2 separate regions of the Homo sapiens genome follow, and region 1 is linked to region 2. Evidence: fine-mapped expression QTL. Tissue or cell type: lung. Region 2 holds a variant in brackets; the other region holds the start of a gene. All regions are shown on one strand. Distances are between the middles of the regions.

What was found. PIP is the estimated chance that this variant, and not a neighbour inherited with it, causes the effect.
Region 1: it holds the start of FAAH2, and the variant in region 2 is fine-mapped to the expression of FAAH2 in lung (TOPMed, PIP 0.92).

Annotation. Positions count from the first base shown.
Region 1 is chrX:57,285,028-57,287,703 of GRCh38, forward strand. It overlaps FAAH2 (fatty acid amide hydrolase 2), which reads left to right and starts at 1,679. Exons shown (of 11, transcript NM_174912.4): 1 at 1,679-1,990. The coding sequence starts at 1,799.
Region 2 is chrX:57,686,466-57,689,141 of GRCh38, forward strand. No RefSeq gene overlaps it. Among named protein-coding and RNA genes, the nearest start is that of NLRP2B, 7.5 kb to the left of the region's middle. The variant C/T (reference allele first, on the strand shown) is at 1,163.

The sequences.
Region 1 (2,676 bases), 400 kb before region 2:
ATTTTGACAAAACCTTTCTCTGGTAAGGAAGTTTCACTCAGCTAACAGGTTTTGCTCAGAACTGTAATGGAGCCTAGATTATGACAACCTGCTTTATCAGCTTTCTTTACTGGATCTGCTAGATGTGCCTGTCATGATTAACCTGCTTTCTACCAGGTGCTTGAATTAGGCTAGAAGTGCTGTGATGACACTTTCAGTATCAACCTAAGTTCTGCAGGTGAAAAGACAGTGACCTGGATGACGTTGTCATTTCACCTACCCAAGACCTTAAATGCCAAGCTCGAATCCCTATCTTCAACGCTCATTATCTCATAATCACATACCTTCAGCCTACAAACCTGTATTGACTTCTCATCAAGCCCTATGTCAGGCTCTGGCAATACAAAGAGGAATTAGAATGACCCTGTTCTTCGAGGAGTTTATATCTAGATGGGGCATAGACACAAAAACCTAACACATAACAGAGGGTTGTAAGTGCTATGATTTTGTTAATCTGTGGAGTGCAGGGTTACAAAAGAGTGGCATCACACCCAGTTGTAAGTTCAGGGAAGACTTACTGGAGGAGGTGGTACTTGTCCTGAACTAGATGAAGAGGTTGGGAAAGCAGATGCAAAGATAAGGAGGGAAGAGAGAACTTTCGGATAGTTGTTTGTCAGGAGCTTAGCATGTGAGGGATAGAAGGGGTTAGGGATGAAGCATAGAGTTTTTCAGACACCAGTCATGAGAGTCGAATGCTGGACAAAGTAGATGGGTCTTGAATCTGTGGAAAATGGAGAATTATTGCGGAGTTATTGGCAGGGGTGTAATATTGTCAGATTTACATATTAGAAAGAACACTCTATAAATAAAGGCAGAGTGATCAGCTAGATTATTTGTAGAAGTTCATGTAAACCTCAGTGAGATCTGAGCCAGACTGAGTTGAGAAGGAAGGGCTGGATTCTGTCATGAGAATAAGAGAAATGGAAGAATCTGAAGTGATTCTAGATTTTTGGCATGGCTGACTGGGTGGATGAAAATTCCATTTGTAGACCTGTAGGGGCAGCAGTCTGGGGGACAAAAGGATGAGTTTTGGACTTGTTGAGTTTGAACGATCTGGAAGACATTCACATGGATATGTCAAAAAAGGCATTTCAAGTGTCCAGTTTAGGAGACAGATGGGCTGGAGATTTGATGTTCATCAGTACTACCTGTTAGTGATCTTATAAGGATTAAATAATATGCATATGGAAAATATATATATACTTGCCATTTAGTTGTTTGTTGAGCATACTGAATATTTGCATACAAAGGTATACTTACAACACTTTTTTCACAAGCACAGCTGAAATAAACTATAACAACTACCACTTATACTATTTACCATAAATTGTGCTAAATGTTTTTACTTATTATCTAGTGTTTATGGTAACCCTTTGATATAGGAGTAGTTATTCCCATTTTTTTTCTTATGAGTAAACTGACTAGGAGATATAGTGTAGGTTGGCCAGGGCTACACAGTAGCAGAACTGGGGAATTCCAAGGCCAGTGTTCTTTCTTATGACGCATTTTCTGTCTTGGGTTACAACAGCACTAACGACAGGTAGCATTGCACACAGGCAGCTGCTGGGAAGTCTCCGCCCCCATCTCTGGCTAGGAGCCCTGCAGGTGATGATAAACAAGCTCCTGTGGAATTGTGGGTAGACACTGGACTTGTAAACGAAAAGCTTCATAAGTCCCTCTTTGCTTAGTACTTTTCTCGTCCTTTCCCCAGGGTGCACGTAACCCTCAAGCACTAGGACCGTGCGGAATCCAGGCTGCGATGGCACCTTCATTTACCGCCCGCATTCAGTTGTTCCTCTTGCGGGCGCTAGGCTTTCTCATAGGCTTAGTAGGCCGAGCAGCTTTAGTCTTAGGGGGTCCAAAGTTTGCCTCAAAGACCCCTCGGCCGGTGACTGAACCATTGCTTCTGCTTTCGGGGATGCAGCTGGCCAAGCTGATCCGACAGAGAAAGGTGAGAATGCAATTCAGAAGAGGCTGGAGGGACAGGTCTTTTAGCAGGATCCAGGAAGCTTAGTGGTGGCGGTGGTTGTGGTTTCCTTTCCATTCTCTACTAGGGCGACTTAGGAGAGGCATTTATTGGGGATGAAGGGAGACTTCTGGGTGTTGTAGTACGTTTATTTTTACCAAGGACATTTACTGTGGGCATGGGTTGGACTATTTTGGTACCGTCATAGTCCTTCCTATCCATTTGTCCTATTTGTGCATAATTACTGTGTGTGGGGTAAAGCAGGTGTGAATTTCAAACTGATTCTCAGCTATGGAAAGTCAGTCTCTCTCTTTCTCTCTCCCTCTCCCTTTCTCTCTCTCTATTCTTCCGTCTCTCACAGGCCCCAGATCAACCTGCTGCTTACCATTCAACCAATTCTTTTTAAAATTGATTTAAAGTAAAAGTAGTACTTGGTCTAGGATAGTAAAAGCTGCGTCTACCATATATTTATTGCATAGTATATGTGAAATACTCTGCCTGGGTACTTAAACATATTCTATTTCACGGATGCAGTTATATAGGCAATATTCATATTTTATGCATAAGGAAACTGAAGTAAAATGATTTGCACAAAAATTGTTGAAAGTTCTAAATTAAAAAAATTAAGCAGCTCATTCGTTCTCTATAGAATTGTGCAGGCAGGACTATTC
Region 2 (2,676 bases):
AAACAAGACCCATCAGAATGTTGTATTCAGGAAACTCATCTCATGTGCAGAGACACACATAGGCTCAAAATAAAGGGATGGAGGAAGATCTACCAAGCAAATGGAAAACAAAAAAAAAGCAGGTGTTTCAATCCTAGTCTCTGATAAAACAGACTTTGAACCAACAAAGATCAAAAGAGACAAAGAAGGCCATTACATAACGGTAAAGGGATCAATTCAACAAGAAGAGCTAAATATCCTAAATAGATAAGCACCCAATACAGAAGCACCCAGATTCATAAAGCAAGTCCTTAGTGACCTACAAAGAGACTTAGACTCCCACACAATAATAATGGGAGAATTTAACACACCACTGTCAACATTAGACAGATCAACGAGACAGAAAGTTAAGAAGGATACCCAGGAATTGAACTCAGCTCTGCACCAAGCAGACCTAATAGACATCTACAGAACTCTCCACCTCAATTCAACAGAATATACATTCTTTTCAGCACCACATCACACCTACCCCAAAACTGACCACACAGTTAGAAGTAAAGCACTCCTCAACAAATGCAAAAGAACAGAAATTATAACAAACTGCCTCTCAGACCACAGTGCAATCAAACTAGAACTCAGGATTAAGAAACTCACTCAAAACTGCTCAACTACATGGAAACTGAACAACCTGTTCCTGAATGACTACTGGGTAAATAACGAAATGAAGGCAGAAATAAAGATGTTCTTTGAAACCAAGGAGAACAAAGACACAACATACCAGCATCTCTGGGACACATTCAAAGCAGTGTGTAGAGGGAAATTTATAGCAATAAATGCCCACAAGAGAAAGCAGGAAAGATCTAAAATTGACACCCTAACATCACAATTAAAAGAACTAGAAAAGCAAGAGCAAACACATTCAAAAGCTAGCAGAAGGCAAGAAATAACTAAGATCAGAGTGCAACGGAAGGAAATAGAGACACAAAAAAACCCTTCAAAAAATCAATGAATCCAGGAGCTGGTTTTTTGAAAAGATCAACAAAATTGATAGATTGCTAGCAAGACTAATAAAGAAGAAAAGAGAGAAGAATCAAATAGATGCAATAAAAAACGATAAAGGGGATATCACTACCAATCCCACAGAAATACAAACTAACATCAGAGAATGCTATAAACATCTCTA[C/T]GCAAATAAACTAGAAAACCTAGAAGAAAGGGATAAATTCCTGGACACATACATCCTCCCAAGACTAAACCAGGAAGAAGTTGAATCTCTGAATAGACCAATAACAGGCTCTGAAATTGAGGCAATAATCAATAGCTTAGCAAACAAGAAAAGTCCAGGACCAGATGGATTCACAGCCGAATTCTACCAGAGGTACAAAGAGGAGCTGTTACCATTCCTTCTGAGACTATTCCGACCAATAGAAAAAGTGGGAATCCTCCCTAACTCATTTTATGAGGCCTGCATCATCCTAATACCAAAGCATGGCAGAGACACAACAAAAAAAGAGAATTTAGACCGATAACCTTGATGAACATCAATGAAAAAATCCTCAATAAAATACTGGTGAACCAAATCCAGCAGCAAATCAAAAAGCTTATCCAACATGATCAAGTGGGCTTCATCCCTGGGATGCAAGCCTGGTTCAACATATGAAAATCAATAAATGTAATCCAACATATAAACAGAACCAAAGACAAAAACCACATGATTTTCTCAATAGATGCAGAAAAGGTCTTTGCAAAATTCAACAACCCTTCATGCTAAAAACTCTCAAGAAATTAGGTATTGATGGGACATATCTCAAAATAATAAGAGCTATCTATGACAAACCCACAGCCAATATCATACTGAATGGGCAAAAACTGGAAGCATTCCCTTTGAAAACGGGCACAAGACAGGGATACCCTCTCTCACCACTCCTATTCCACATAGTGTTGGAAGTTCTGGCCAGGGCAATCAGGCAGGAGAAGGAAATAAAGGGTATTCTATTAGGAAAAGAGGAAGTCAAATTGTCCCTGTTCGCAAATGACATGATTGTATATCTAGAAAACCCCATCATCTCAGCCCAAAATCTCCTCAACCTGATAAGCAACTTCAGCAAAGTCTCAGGATACAAAGTCAATATACAAAAATCACAAGCATTCTTATACACCAATAACAGACAAAGAGAGAGCCAAATCATGACTGAACTCCCATTCACAATTGCTTCAAAGGGAATAAAATACTTAGGAATCCAACTTACAAGGGAAGTGAAGGACCTCTTCAAGGAGAACTACAAACCACTGCTCAATGAAATAAAAGAGGATACAAACAAACGGAAGAACATTTCATGCTCATGGGTAGGAAGAATCAATGTCGTGAAAATGGCCATATTGCCCAAGGCAATTTACAGATTCAATGCCATCCCCATCAAGCTACCAATGACTTTCTTCACAGAATTGGAAAAAACTACTTTCAAGTTCATATGGAACCAAAAAAGAGCCCACATCACCAAGTCAATCATAAGCCAAAAGAACAAAGCTGGAGGCATCACGCTACCTGACTTCAAACTATACTACAAGGCTACAGTAACCAAAACAGCATGGTACTGGTAGCAAAACAGACACACAGACCAATGGAACAGAACAGAGCCCTCAGAAATAATACCACACATCTACAGCTATCTGATCTTTGACAAACCTGACAAAAACAAG